Linked DNA regions of Homo sapiens: region 2 is reported to be linked to region 1. Evidence: microRNA targets listed by miRTarBase, many of them from high-throughput screens and not tested one by one. Region 1 holds a microRNA gene; the other region holds the end of a gene's coding sequence.

Region 1 (8,515 bases):
GACTTAACTTTTACATGTATTACAATTAGGCCCTCTATATCAAAAGGTCTTTTCAGGACATGAAGGTGCACAAGTGCACAATCTCCGTAAGCCAGCCAGAACCAGTTCATAGTCAGTGGTCTTATCTGGAGAAAGCTAATGAAATCAGTCTCTTGTCCAGTCAGAGCTGTAGTTATAGCTTGTGGAACACGGGCTGAGGATCAGCCTAGTCAGCAGCTGGTGGAACTGAAAATTGTTTTAATATCACTTGTTTTGAGACCAGTGCTTGTTTAGCTGCTAGAGAAAAAGAAAATCCTTGTGACAGTTAGAACATAGTTTATTCTTTAAGTGCAGGAATGTGTGATTTAACCTTTGCCTGGCATGTCCTTAGATAATGTTTATAATCTAATATCTTATTGTCACATAGAGTCTGTTCTGTCAGCCTTTTAATCTCTATTTTAACATTAATGCTGGTCAGTTGTTCTGTCCAAACCACAAAATGGAGGGGGTGTAACAAGGTGTGTCTGACCTTCCATTCTGTCATGGCTGGGAACTCAGTTTTAAGGATTTTCTGCGTTCCCCTTTGCCAAGAGAGGGTCTGTTCTTTCAGTGGGGGGCATAGGATTTTATTTTTAAATTTTAAAATTTTTAACTTTGTTTTCTTTGGGGTACATAGTAGATATATAAATATTATAAAATATTATAAATAAATATTATGGGGTACATGAAATGTTTTGATACAGGAATGGAATGTATAATAGTCACATCATGAAGAAGGGGGTAGGAGTTTTTTTTAGTTTACATTACTTTAATATTGGACCCCTGAAACACACTGTCCTTTGTTTAAAAAAGTAAATTTGAAAAACTTTTAGGGAAATCTTAAAAAATGGCAATAATTTAATTTTAAACCACAATTTATCAGTCATATATACATGACTGATATATAGAGAACACAGCTTTATATATACAGTGTTTAGCTATTGATATGGTTTGGCTGTGTCCCCACCCAAATCTCAACTTGAATTGTATCTCCCAGAATTCCCACGTGTTATGGGAGGGACCCAGGGGGAGGTAATTGAATCATGGGGCCCAGTCTTTCTTGTGATAGTGAATAAGTCTCATGAGATCTCATGAGTTTATTAGGGGTTTCCGCTTTTGCTTCTTCCTCATTTTCTCTTGCTGCTGCCATGTAAGAAGGGCCTTTTGCCTCCTGTCATGATTCTGAGGCCTCCCCAGCCATGTGGAACTATAAGTCCAATTCAACCTCTTTTACTTCCCAGTCTCGGGTATGTCTTTAGCAGTAGCATGAAAACGGCCTAACACAGCTGTGAAGTTGTATATCAATATCACTTTCTGGTTCCCCTTAGAACCCTCAGGAGTTTCTCTTTTCTGTTAATTAAAATTTCACAGTCACTTTTAATCTATTATCATTATTCTGCAGAGTGAACTGTTTGAATAGAGAATCAATTAAAAGCATAGCACAGTAAAACGTGGGGATGTTTTGCAACTTGGGCATATGAAAAGTAGTGAATAAGAATCATTTTCAACCTATGATATGAAAGAAGGGAGATCCTGGGGGCATCCATAGTCAAACACTTGGTTGTACACTTGGAGATGTTTTTTCAAGCCTTGGATTATTACTAACAGTAAACAAGAAATTCACTAACTAGAGAAAGCAGATATGAGTACGTACAGACTATCAGATCACAAACAGCAGTTAGTAAGGTGATCTAACTAAAAGCTGTAGATGGTGTCTCTTTGAACTAATGCTACTTTGAGCGGTCTAAAAGCATGATTGCTACATGATGCTTTAAGAAATCTGCCTAGTACCTGACAGCATATTGTTCATACTAGTATCTGTAGCTGTAAATTTAGATTTTAATAATTGTTTGGTACATATTAATATATAATTTTAAGATAAAAAGGAAATTGATTTTATAGGTTATATCCTATATCTTTGGCTTAAAATATATTGTAGAAAATAATGTATCCCATCAAATTCCATGGTAAATTAGTGAGTCACAGCGAAAGTTAGAAACACTGGCCTACAACTTTTAATGATTAATTACTTGGCCATGAATAAGCCATACATTATTTAGATGTATATTTAATTTTAAAGAAATCTGCATTTTAATATTTCTGAATATGTCATTAGTTATTAAGAAGATTACTATAAAAAGCAGTATTCAAAAATATATTTTACAGTTTACTTTAGTTTTTAGTGAACATTAGAATGATAGCATGGCCATGTTGTTTATCACTGAAGCACCTAGGAGAGTTAGCAAATGTTAATCCTGCTAGTGTCATCAAGACTAAACAAATTATAAAGACTAAATATCCTTTTTTTTTTTTTTTTTTGAGATGGAGTCTCACTCTGTCTCTGAGGCTGGAGTGCAGTGGCACGATTTTGGCTTACTCCTACCTCAGCCTCCCAAGTAGCTGGGCTTACAGGCACGCAACATCACCCCTAGATAATTTTTGTATTTTTAGTAGAGATGGGGTTTCGCCATGTTGGCCAGGCTGGTCTCGAACTCCTGACCTCAGGTGATCCACCCACTTTGGCCTCCTAAAGTGCTGGGATTATAGGCGTGAGCCAACATGCCTGGCAAGATTAAATATACTTTTAAAAAATTATATTTTTTTCTATTGACTTAGAAATCACTCTACATTAATGACATAGTCAAAGAGATTTTACTTTTGTTCTCTTGTAAATAAAATACCAGATTAAAGGTATGCTTAATGTGATAAAGTAAAGCCAAAATCCAAACCAGAAAATCTAGAGTCATAAAGTTAAAGCCACAATTATATCTTATTCTCTTACCTACTCATTTCTTTTTCCCCACTACTGAGAGGATAGAGTCACATAGTACAAATCAGCAGAAGTCCTCATTATTATATTCTTGCTTAGGCAAGAATTCATGATTGCTTCTTTGTCCTTATCCCTTTTCCACCACTCAAGATCCATACAATAGAAGAAATAGAGAATCATTTAATAAAGTTGTCTTCCATTCAACTCTGAAGAAAATATCAACAGAGAAATGGAAGTCTTTTCCATGCACTCATAGGTAAAGTTTTGAGATCAGCTTGAAAGGAGGTAGCTCAATTGGAAATTACATAAAAAATTCCAGGAAAGATGGGTTGTGAGACTATCTCAGAAGAGAAAATCTAGGGTTTGTTTGTTTGTTTGTTTGAAGATATTGTAGATTGTATTGAACCTCTCAGGTGTCAGGTCCTGATGAAATTGTAGGCTCACAAAATTTTGCAGATAGGAAAGTTCTTGGTGCTGAGAGACTTGAGATGAGCAAGTACATAATGCAGAATTTGCTAAGCTAAATGAACAGGGCTGATTGAATTTGTCCTTAGCTAAGTTTCTTTATTTTGTAATGTGGTGGTCACATTGCAGAGCCGCAGAGCCTAGGATCTCATGATGCTTCTAGGCCTGTGTTTTTGGCAACTAAATTGTGATACATCTGGGATAGCTTTGGTAAAAAGTGTGTGCAGCCCATCTGGGGTCTTCCAGCCATAGAATTCCTCTACTGTCATGTAAGAAGTCTGTTTATATGATTTAGAAGCAGGTAATACAGGTTGACTAAATTGGAAGTGGAGCTGGGCAGTGTTTGTAACCCAGAAAATATCTTGGTACCTATAAGTGTCAGGAGATTTTTCTCCTTTTATTTAATTGGTGGGAAATGATATTTTTGAGATAAGGGGTTTAAGTTCAAGTAAGAGATGAGTTATTGGTTGACAAGCTTTTGGATCATTTAGGCTACTTGTAATCACAACCAGTTCATCAGGAAAAGACCACCAGGCCAGAAGAGGCTTTCATGACAGCATTTACACAGAGAAGCATCAATCAATGTCAAGCCTTTCAGCAGAAACTGGAACTTCATGGTGCAGCAGTTCATCTTCGCATGGGCCGGGAGGTTGAACATCCTGCATAGTGCTGCCAGGAAATCCCTATTTCATATAAGAGGGGGCTGGCTGGTTGCATATGTAGGATGTCCCATCTCCCAGCCCACTTCGTCATGACAGACACCAGAAACACCACTCTGCTTCACTGAAGAACAATAAAATCTGCGTGTCATGGAAACACAGATGCTAGAGCTGCATCACTAGAAAGGCATTCTGACAAATGTATTTAGAGGAGGGTAGAGTACTGACTGCTATGACCTTGGCTCATAAGAGGCAGTGGGTATGTGAGTGGATCTTTAAGCTCAGGGCCAGTAGATCTGCATTAAACCATATTAGCAACAACACTGGCCACACAGATAATGCCTCCAGAATTGTGCCACCTACTCTCAGAGCTACACCGAATTAGGGAGATTCAATAGTTGGGCATATTTATTTAGGCTAGCCAGAGCCAAATACCTAGAGGTAGAGAGAATCTAATTCTTAATTATAGAAAAAAACAAAGATTATATCCTGAAAAGCAGCCTAGAATTTCAAGTCTGAGGGTCAAGGTAAGATAGTAAATTAAAAAATATGTCTCAAAGTCAGAAGAAGGATATTTGGGAGGAGTATTCCAGAGAAGAACTAACAATTCTAAATTGAGCAGAAACAGTCTATTACACTTTGAGGCAAGAATCAAGTTACAAGGAAGTAGGTGTGATTGCAAAGGGAGAAAGTTAGCGGCATGTCCCTACAAATATTTCAGAGATATAATTTCTGTCAGCTGCAGTATCCAATCATATCCAGGGAATTCTGTCAAAAGCAAGGTGATAGGAAATATCGAGAGCAGGGCCCAGCTCTTAAAAACATAGGGCAGGATTAAAAGTAATGCAAAATCCAGCCAATCCTAGCGGCCCTTCTACTTCTGGATTGGTACAGGAAGGATATAATCTCAGAATAGAAATAAGCCATTTAAATGGAATATATTTAGCTTTATAAATAATTGGCTGTTATACATAATTTTCCATTTTCACTTTAGACTGCTGAAATTTCACTATGGATCTTTATATGAAAATGACTAATCTGTAGGAGATGCTACTGGCAGAGAATCAATTATGTCAACAGCACAAACTTGAGTTGTATCCTGGGATGCTATCGAGTTTTCCACTGACTTTAAATTAGGGTCAAGTTAAACAGGCCATCTCCAAAGACTTTGGGGTTCTAAAAAATGTTGATTTGCTATGCATTCGAATCTGGGATGAGTTTCTAGTCAACCATCCTGGCTTTGGCATTCTTCACAGTGGATGGTAAGTGGGCCAATCTTAGGCTGAAAAACAGGCTGATTTAGGGTTTGGGATTTAGAGCATTTATATCTCTTTATTTTCCTCAGCAGCACAGACTCTCCATTGGAATTAGGGGCTTAGTGAATAGTTCAAAAAACGTATGGTTTCATATACAAGGACCCCAAAGTTCCATGCAAATGTATGAGCATACTGTTATGTATAATACCCATGTAATTTCTGTAGAGTCTATAGAGATATCACCTCTTTGATCACTGATAATTGATAATGTGTGGCTTCTACCTTTAATTCTTAGTCGATCTGTTGAGAGGTTTATCAGTTTTATTGATCTATTCCCAATAAAGTGCAGCATTTTATTTCATTGAATTCTCAATATTATAGTATTGCCTAAATTTTATTGATTTCTGCTTTTATATTTATTTATTTCTTCTGGTACTTGGATTTCATTTTTCCTTTTTTGCCTAGCACTTTAATTTTGGAAGCTTAGATCATGGATTTGAGTTTTCTTTTCTAAAATAAACCATTAACGTTAGAAAATTCCCTTTGAGTACTACTTTAGCACCATCAGACAAATTTTAGTACGTTTTGTTTTCATTTTAATTTACTTCAAATTATTTTTTAACTTCATTTGCCTTTTCCTTTTGAAACATGAATTATTTAGAATTGTGTTATTTAATTTGCAAATATTTGAACATTTTCAAGATATCTGTTTTATTTGTTTTCAGGTTAATTCTGTTATACTCAGACAACACACGTTGTTTGATTGCAACCATTTTAATTTCTTCAGGTATATTTTATGAGCCAGAATATGGTCTTTCCTGGTCAATTTTCCATAGTTCTTGAAAAGAATGTGTACTTTCCTGTTGTCAGGTGGTATGTTTTATCAATGTCAATTAGGTCAAGTTTGTTGGTAATGCTGTTCAGTTCTTTTACCTCAGTGATAATTTTCTGTATGCTTTTCTGTCAATTAACTGAGGAAGGGGTGTTGAAATCTTGAAGTGTAATTGTAATTCTACTTTTGATTTCTTCTTTCTGCTCTACCATTGTTGTGCTTCATGAATTTTGAAGCCCTGTTATTATATTTTAAATGTTATTATATTTTAAATGTATTATAAACGTTTAGGACTGTTATATTCCCTCGATGAATTGACACCTTTATCATTATAAAATGGTCTGTGTTACCTCTGGTGATATCCGATGATCTGCAATTTACTTTATCTGTTATTAATATAAAAATTCTAGCATTTGTTTAATTAGTGTTTGCACAGTATATCTTTTATCCATACTTTTATTATACAGGTTGAGCATCTCTAGTCCCAAAATCTGAAATCTGAAATAATCCAAAATCAAAAACTTTTTTTTTTTTTTTGAGACAGGGTTTTTCTTTGTTGCCCAGTCTGGAGGGCCATGGCACAATCATGCAGCCTCAAACTCCTAGGCTCAGGTGATCCTCCTGCCTCAGCCTCCTGAGTAGCTGGGACCACAGGTGTATGCCACGATGCCGGGCTAAGTTTTTAAAGTATTTGTAGAGACAGGATCTCCCTATGTTTCCCAGGCTGGTCTCCTGGGTTCAAGTGATCCTCCCACCTCAGCCTCCCAAAGTGCTGAGATTACAGGCATGAGCCACCATGACCAGCCAAAATACAAAGCTTTTTGAACATCTATATGGTGCCACAAGTAGAAAATTTCTCAGCTGACCTCATGTGACTGGTCACAGTCAAAATGCCATCAAAACTTTGTTTCATGCACAAAATTATTTGCAATATTGCATAAAATTAACTTCAGGCCAAAAAATAAATGAATTTCACGTGTAGACTTGAGTTCCATCCCCAACATGTCTTATTATGTATATGCAAATATTCCAAAATATCAAAATGTCCAAAATCTGAGACTCTTCTAATCCCAGGCATTTCAGATAAAGGATGCTCAGCTTGTACAACTATCTATATTATTAAATTTAAATTTGTAGAGTTTCTTATAGACAGCATATAATTGTGTCTTGTTTATTTTTATTCTCAATTTTAATCCAAAATCGCTATCTCTTTCCTTGAATTGGTGTGTTTATACCATTTAGATTTAATGCAATTATTGATTTGTTTGGACTTATGTCTACCGTGTTTTGTTTTCTATTTATCCCTTGTCTTTTCCACTCTTTTATTTCCTATAGGAATGGGAAACATTCTTTTGTTTCCTAATTCTGATTTATTATGTTTTTTTCTTTTTATTTGAGTATTTCAATTTTATTGATCTATTGGCTTTTTTACTATATTTCTTTGTACAGTTTTTTTGTTTGTTAAGTGACAATGCTCTGAATTAAAATATACCTGTATATTATAAGTATCCCTTATCCAAAATTCTTGGGACCACAATGCTTTGGATTTTGAATTTTATTAGATTTTGGAATATTTTCATTATAGTTAACAGTTCAGCATCCCTAATCCAAAATTCCAAAATCCAAACTGCTCCAATGAGTATTTCCCTTAAGCATTATCTCAGTGCTCAAAAAGTTTAGATTTTGGAGAATTTGGGATTTCAGGTTTTCAGATTAGAAATATTCAACCTATATATACATATTTTTTCCAAGTTTCTTACCCTTAATATTTTATCACATCAAGTGAAAGATAAAACCATATATGCTCCTTTATCCTCCTTTTTTTGGTCTTAGTTGTAATATGGATTACATCTACATGCATTGAGAACCTTATCAGACAATGTTACAAAATTTTTGCTTCTGAGAATCATATGTATTTTAAAGACTTAAGAAAAATTATTATATTTTCTAAGATATTTACCGTTTCTGTTGTTCTTCCTTTGTTCCTGATGTTTTCCTTTAGTGTAATTTTCCTTTAGTGTAATTTCCTTTAGTGTTTTCCTTTAGTGTAATTTCCTTCTGCCTGAAAAACATCCTTTAACATTTTTAGACCAAGTCTCCTAGTTTAGAGAGACTTGTTTTAGAGCAATGAGTTCCTAGTTTCCCTTCACCTGAGAATCTCTTTATTTCACATTCATTTGTGAAATATATTTCCACTGGATATGGAATTTTGAATTGATAGCTCCTTTCTTTCAGGCTTTTAAATTTGTGGTTACACTACCTTCTGGTTTTCATGGTTTCTGATGCAAAATCTGAAGATATGCAACTTTCAATGTTTTTGTCTTTATCTTTTATTTTGACCAGTTTGATTATGATGATCTAGGTATGATTTTTTTTTTGGTTTAAACATTTGAGTTTTACAGAACTTCTTAAATCTGTAAATTTTTTCCCCCCAAATGCGGCATGTTTTGGACCATTATTTCTTCAAATAGTATTTCTTCATCAATTTTTCTCCTCTCCTTATAAAATTCCAATG
Region 2 (7,757 bases), not on the chromosome of region 1:
TATAGACCTTTTAAATTTTAGTTCTTTTAAATGCTTTACAGTATTTGATATGTAAATGTGATTTCTCAAAATAAGGTGAGTAAAGTAGGTGATTATTTGTTTAATATTAACTGTTTATGTCATTTTCATGGTGAGCTTTCCAGTGTTTTAAAATTAGGTACAGTTTTCATTAGTTTAGATGTTTTCTGTGGTTTGGGCACTGCTAGGTACTAGAGATACAAAGTTGAAAGACCCATAGAGTGGAATACTTTGTTATTTGTTTTGAATTTTAAAGATGTTTTAATACTTTGATCCATTGTGGTATATAAAACTGAAATTTTTAATTAGCTAATTAGTGTTTATGTAGCTGTTTTCCTCCTCAGCTATAGATTTCATTTATAAAGAAGTTGAAAAAGTTGTCTCCCTTTGGCAGGCAAAAGATGTGATTGAAGAGCATGGTCCTTCAGAAAAGGCAATAAACGGCCCAACTAGTGCTTCTGGCGATGACATTTCTAAGCTACAGCGTACTCCAGGAGAAGAAAAGATTAATACCTTAAAAGAAGAAAACACTCAAGAAGCAGCAGTCCTGAATGGTGTTTCATAAACTGAAGAAGTTCCTAGTTTACAGTTCTTTTACATTACATTTACAATAGTGCTTGTACAAGCTTGCCAAAGATAGAATATGGATCGCCAGTCTTTACATCGCACTTTCAGTTCCTCCATTTGGAATTCAAAAAGGGGAGGGATCCTGAAGAAATCATATGTTAAACATACTTTGACACCTACTGTGTTATAAAATATATCATCAGATGTGCCTTGAGAATAGTATATGTAACATTAAAAAAAAGTTGCTGGCTATAGGAAATGTTATTTTGTTTTCAAAATATGGCAGAGATGGGGGGTGGTGGGTGGGGTGGGATCCCTAACGTAATATTCTTTATGAAAGCATTAGCTGCTTTTGTTACATTTTTAATATGCAACCACTTCTTCACCTGAGGAAAACTAGAATGAAATGCAGTCTAAAATATTTTGCACTGAATTGTAATTTCTTCATTAGTTTAGTCTGGAAACTGGTCTGTTTTAATGTGTTTTTTAAATGCTGTATGTAGAGGAAAATCTGCAGACCACTGGAATACATTTGTTAAACTCTCATCTGCAGGGACACTGGGCGATACTTGGCAGTGACTGTTCTACCTTGAGGCTTTGTTTGGTTTATTTATTAAAGTGTACAGTATTTAAAAATCAAACATAGCTTTAGTTAAAACACTAAGCTGAATTAGTCATGTCCATTCAGACATAACCTGAACTACTGAAAAGATCAATTTCCAGAAGGTTTATTCTGTATAAACTACATGTTAGTCTTCAGTAGAGTATCTTTTTTTTTTCCTTTTTTTTTTTTTTATTTCGGTTGTTTGATGTGCAATATGTTTTTGTATGCAGGTAGTAAATAAACTTTGATCTTCCATTTGCTGAATTTTTTTAACTTTCTACTTTTTACACCAATTGTTGCAAAATAGTTGGAGCTATTAATAGGCTTAGGATAGTATACTTTGCTTTTTAAAAAGCATTTATACTTGCTCATAAATAGCATTAAAATGTCAGTTGGCCATTTAATCATTTTGTAATGAATCATCTGAAATCTTTACACAAGTTTAGGCTGTTAGATGCATAGGTAATTAATAATACATGTGATAATTAGCAAAAAAACCTAACAAAATTCTAATCAAAGGCAACTTTGGAAGACAATGGGGGATAGAAGGGATGACAAGCAATTTTTAAATAATAGGCCAATGATTTGCTTTATTCATTCTCAACTTATTTTGAAGGCTCTCATATCAGTGACCAAAAATCAGTTATTAAACTTTATGTATATATTTTAGCCAGAGCTTAATTTTTATGAAGATAAAGACATGAAGTTTAACAATGGACAACAGTTAGTACAGCTAATTGTGAGGTCAAGTAATTGTTAGACATAGGGGAAGGCTTTGTTCCACAATATTATATGGACCACTGAACAAGAATGACAGCCCTTTGTTATCACTTGGCATATGAAAAGTGTTGTGTGCATAGTTTGTGTTAATTTTTTATGTGCATAAAAATGTGATTTTAATTTATATGCTCTGAAGGATAATTCAGGGTATAGTTAAAAATGTACAATGTGCCAGTTCAGTATATATAACCCTAGCCCTCAAATTATTCTGATTAAGGTTAAAATGTGCTGGTATTACGTGCTTTTTCCTGAGGCCTTCTGATTGGTTCTTGGTAACAGAATTTTAAAGTAAGGTGTGAGTAGTGCAACTCCTGTCCTTTATATATAAAGATATCAAGTAATTTCATGTCCTGATATTTAAAAAAATTACCCACAAATGTGTTTTTTTAAATCGATCAAAGCTAGCAACAGGTTAAATTGTCTCAGTTCTCTTACATAATTGGGTTAAAAATTATAAGGTATTAGAAGAATTTTAATTAATGCCAAATTGGTAAATATGGTGTAAAAAAAAAAAAAAAGACTTTTCATTTTCTCCCACATAGAATAGTCAGATATATTAAACATCCCTTTTCCATAAAGATGGTTTCAATGGGAATGGAAGAAACAAAATCTTAAAAGAGTGAGTATAGCTGAACCAATTCTTCATTCTAGCAATAACCACACTAAGTTCATTACTTTACAAATGACTAAACCCAATGTCTTGTCCTTTAAAAAATATAGGTAGTGCAGAATTGTGATAAATACGCATTTGTTTTTTTAGAGAGCCCCACTCCCCAAAGGGTAGCCATTAATTCAGGTAGCCTTTTAAATGTATTTGAGAGGGTTCCGTCTTTTTGGCTGCTATCCTAGTTAGGTGAGATGTTGCTATGGGAAGAACTTGCCACTATACACTAAACAGACACTTAAGCAAAAGATGTATTCTGGAGCCTGGCACAGTAGCTTATGTCTTTGGTTCTAGCTACTCAGGAGCCTGAGGTGGGAGCATCATTTGAACTCAGTTCTGGGCCACTGAGACCCTCTTTAAAGAGAAGGAAAAAAAGGTATTCTGGAAGATCTTGTGCAGTTGCAACAATGTTTCAGCATATATATGTGAATTCATATATGACACCTGAACGGAATCATGAAGTAACAGCTGAGATTATATGGTGGCAAAAATGACCTGCTTTTCCTGAAGCTTTGGGAGGCCTAGGATTCTTGCTTTAGGCATCACCTTTGTTAAGCCTTAAAGGGGGCTACAACTTGTGCAAAATGGTGTCTCTGGTAACACTTCAGAAATAATTGGCAAAAGTGTAATAGGAATACACAAATCTTTATTTTGAAATAATCTTGTATTTTAATGTGGAATTAGAAGCAGCACATCAAACTGGTGAGTTCACAGAAACTTACCTGAGATGATGCTGGGTTCCATTGCTGTTGTGCTAAGTCACGTATTTTTGTAGCTGCTGTTAGCTGTGTCTAGCGTTTTGTAACCTAAGGAGGGTCTTATAGAAGTTGGTATGTTAACTAAATCTTGGACTGGGAAACAGCACCATTTGTATCCTCTGCAAACAGATTTACGCTTTTGAGGCTCAAACCAACTAGTGTTCTCATGGGCTGTTGCCTAAGGACAGATAAACATGGAAAACAGGCTATGTCCAGGGACAGATGATTGGTGGTTAAGAATTACAGTAAAGGAAAATTACACCTGGATTTTCTTCTGTAAAGTTTCAAGGAACTTGGATTTGAACTGTGAATCTACTGTTTTGGCAAAAAATCTCAAAGAAAAGGATGTTTGTTACTGTCTCAGTCTTCCTGTCTTTGCTACACGATTTGGATCCCTTACGCTTTTTCGTTAAGAATATCTGTCTGCTATAGTGAATTTGCTAGCCCCTTATTTTTTTTTTTAATTTTAGTTCTTTATTAGAACGTGTACTTGAATGGACTGTAGTTGCTCATAACCCATGTTAATCTCTGATAGTATTTGGGTTTTATTTCAGGAGCTTTTGCAATAAAGCAGTAACTGCAATCTGCTAAAGTCAGACTGTTAGCAAGTGGTGTTAAAACTGATTTAAGTCCATTACACTGAACAGTAGGAAATTACCACTTTTGTAAGGCTCAAAAATGATCAACTATTAACAGTTTCTTATGGTTCAGTCTAATTACAAATTTTTAAAAAGTTTATCAGTGTATCATTTCAGATTCATCTGTATCTTCTGTAATATTATTTCCAGTACTGAGGTAAGGTACACAAAAATTCCCCTGGAAAAACTATATTCTAGTTTTGTAAGATGATTTCCCACAGTCCATTTGCTTATTTCTTCCTTTGATAATTCAAAAAGATGCTTTAGGTAATGGTACAGAATTAGAAGCTGCTATTTTAGCTCTATTAACTTTTTCTCTATGGTTTCAATTTTATCCAACCAGAGAGGGCTGGCCTAGTTGGTATCTTTAAGGCCCTTCCAGTAGTAATTTGAGTCTAGTCACATGTCAGACCCTGAGCAACACCTAACCAAATGCCCAAGTATTCTCATAAGGAGTATGCTGAATTTAAGTGGTGTTTGTTTTACATATGTATCCATCCCAGACATTTTCAACTATGCTGAATGCAATCTATAAGATATTCCAAACAAGGACAAAGTAATTTTTCACAAGTCTTACAGCCCCACTATTAAGTATGCTACTAATTAGCTTCTTGAATTTCTTTGTATTTCAGTGATTGGGATGTTCTTTTTTTTTGGGAAAGTTTTTTTACCCCTTTGTACCCTCTTAATTGGATTAACTGTAAAATGTACATATTAATTTTCTAGTTTTAGAGACCATTTTCATTAAAAATATTTTCCAATAGTTTTTCTAGATAAACAATTTATACTTAATTGTTGCTTGGTTGCTTACATTTCAACCTCTAGGCTTCCTTTTTCAGCTAACTTGGCTGTCTTCAGGTTGTAAAGAAAAATGTAAACATATATTTGAAATTTCATTAACTGAAACTGCTGTAAGGTGTTAGCAAATGTTAACCATAACAGATTATCCCATATCATTGGACTGTTCTATTATTGGGTCAGGAATAATAGGTGACACAGGATAGAAGCTCTTCCTATATATATCTTGTTGCTAAGGCAGTAGTTGGCTCTAAGCTGATAAACAGCACACTGTACAGCAGTCCAAAAACTAAAACCAGAGCTTAGGTCATTCAAGTTAACTGGTACTCAAGGTTACTCATTCCAGGATACTTTACATAACCAAAAACCTAGGAGAGCATTCTACATTGTAATTTTTTTTTTACTTTGTTTACATAAAATTTACAGGGTTTTGTTTTTTTAAGCTTAGTCTGTTCTTTGACATTGTTGATTCATGTTCTAAATTTTCATCAGATTTAACATGTTTGGAGGTTCTTGTGCACTCAATGTGAACCTACTACAAGCTTCTGAACTGCAAAACCTTTTTTTTAGGTCACTGTCAACAGAAAGATGCCTTATAGAATTTCTCATGATTGAAACAGAACTCTGCATTCTAACCTAAAACCCCTCTAACCCTTTAAATGAAGCATTATGCCTGCGTGAAATTTTATTTTTAGACATTTCTGATACTAGGTTTTCTTTACGGGGGGGCATACATATTCAGTATACTGAATTTATACAGCTTTCAGTGTGGCAATATATTAAGAAGCTAGTTCCCTAATTTTTCTCAGTTCTCATTGGTTTTCCATTTAAATGTTTCCGTAAGTACTCTCATCATTTGGAAAATACTTGATGGCAGGAGAACTTGCTTAAAACTAAAGGTGGAGAAAGAGTTAACTTCCAGGACAACCCATTATAGCTCACTTCTTACCAACAAAGCAGTTTTTATACAGCACCTTAGGACTCATTTCTAATGTCAACCCAGATGGCCAGTAAAGGCAAGGGAAGAGGCTAAGTGACTCACAAAAATCTCTGATATTGAGGTCTAATGTGAAGGCTATAGATAGGAATTCCCCACAAACTTCTAATGAGGACTAATATGAACAGCAAATTGGAGAAGACACCAAGGACCTAATTTTAGTTTCACTAGCCGTGGGACCTTAGAAAAAAGACCATTTGCTCTGGACTTTTGTTTCCCAAGCCATAAAATGTGGAAGAATCTTCACAATTTCAAGTTGGTCATGTATATTTCCCTTTTACAGAGAAAGCTGAAGCCTCGAGGCTCAGATTTACCTGGCTTCTGTTTACCTGGCTTCTGCAGAAGTTTAACTTGTAACCTACCTCTCATTCCCAAAGTGTGTTTAATCATGCCGCCTTCTTTAAAATATATCTGGAAGCACCAATGAGTAAAGACAAAGGCCCCAAGCTAGATCTGTAGAGATAAGTACTAGACTCACATCTCAGTACTATCAAGGAAAACATGCTTAGGTTATCAGAATTGTGAAGGCCATAGTACAAAAAGTTAAGAGAACGGAACTCAGGATCTGAGAAAGATCAGCCATTCTCAGCATGTTGCCTTGGCTGCTTAACCTTACTAAACTTCCATTTCCTCACATGTAAAATGTACATCATAATAACTAGTCTACTGAGATAAGGGAAGAATACTTAGCACAGTGCTAGTACACTGTAAGTACTCAAATGTTACAGATCCAAGTATTTTGTAAGAAAATACCAGCAAAAGATAAAAGTTTTTTTATGGATCGTATTTGTATCAATCACCTACATGATCTAGAGCCCTCACATGGATAACATTTAAATGTTCAGTTTGCCTAATAGCCTTCAATGAAACACGGATTCTTCTACTTAAAAAAGGTAAGCCTGGAGAAAATAAAACTGATTACTATGCAAGAAAAAAATGTGCTCTGCTGTGCTCCTTGGTATTTTTAAGTGGTTTCCATTGTCTTAACACCTGTCTTAAAACGGGTATGTTGTTTGCACTGAACCCTCAAAAGTATTTATACCTATTAAGTTAAATTTCCCTTTTTAGAGTTAATGCTTCATTGCCTGTCGGCATATTATCACTATCTGTCTTTGAAAAATTTTCTTTTAAGTCTCAACTATTTCTTCATAAAGCTCTTGTTCAGAGAAACATTTTTTGATTTGTCCAATGGACTGAAATAAAAGGTTAGTAAACCAAAATACAGTTGATCCTCATTATTAGTAGAATTCCTTATCTGTGAATTTGCCTACTCACTAAAATTTGTAACTCCAAAATCAACATCCTTTTCTGGTCATTTGTGAGTATTTGCAGAGTGACAAAAAATTTAAACCACTTTATGTGCACAAGGCAATGCTCTACCTTGTTTAAGCTCTCACACCATAAACAGATATCCTTTTTGTGGTCTATTTAGTGCCAAGTTTCATGTTTGTGCTTTTTGTTGGTGATTTTGCTGTTTTAAGATGGTTCCTAAGAGTAGTAGTGAAGCATGCTACCTAGTGTTCCCAAATGCAAAGAAGGCCGTGATGTCCCAAGCATGAGTTAGTTATAGTGCTGTTGGCTGTTAATTGAAAGTTAATGAAATACTAAAGAATGTTTTCAAGCAGAAACAGGTCGATCAAGGTTATATACTGACTGGCAGACAATATTGTGACCAAAGGGTCACAGAATCTGTATTTCTCTTAGGAACTTGTTCCTTATTTGCTAATTCAGTGTTCATAGCCACCTTAAAGAACAGAATTACCACAAACAAGAACCAGCTGTACTTTCATGTCTCCTTGTCCCTGGAAATAATTTATCCTGCATAAAAGCCTTAGAAGCTAGTGTTTCATCATACACTAAATCATAACAGACTCCATCAGATTTTAAACGAGGGTATTGGATAGAAAACACAAAGAGCAGATATACCTTTACT

What was found. Region 1 holds the annotated microRNA hsa-miR-448 (UUGCAUAUGUAGGAUGUCCCAU, at 3,965-3,986, shown strand). A microRNA usually pairs through its seed, bases 2 to 8, with sites in the 3' UTR of a target mRNA and lowers its output. Matches are read on the target gene's strand: a 7mer-m8 pairs with bases 2 to 8, a 7mer-A1 pairs with bases 2 to 7 and ends in A, and an 8mer does both.
Region 2: miRTarBase lists FXR1 as a target of hsa-miR-448. Seed matches in the 3' UTR shown: 8mer at 952-959 and 7mer-A1 at 6,747-6,753.

Annotation. Positions count from the first base shown.
Region 1 is chrX:114,819,560-114,828,074 of GRCh38, forward strand. MIR448 (microRNA 448) reads left to right here and starts at 3,895; the gene lies at 3,895-4,005. All of the region lies in intron 4 of HTR2C (5-hydroxytryptamine receptor 2C), which reads left to right.
Region 2 is chr3:180,975,710-180,983,466 of GRCh38, forward strand. It overlaps FXR1 (FMR1 autosomal homolog 1), which reads left to right. Exons shown (of 17, transcript NM_005087.4): 17 at 413-7,044. The coding sequence ends at 583. Among named protein-coding and RNA genes, the nearest start is that of DNAJC19, 10 kb to the right of the region's middle.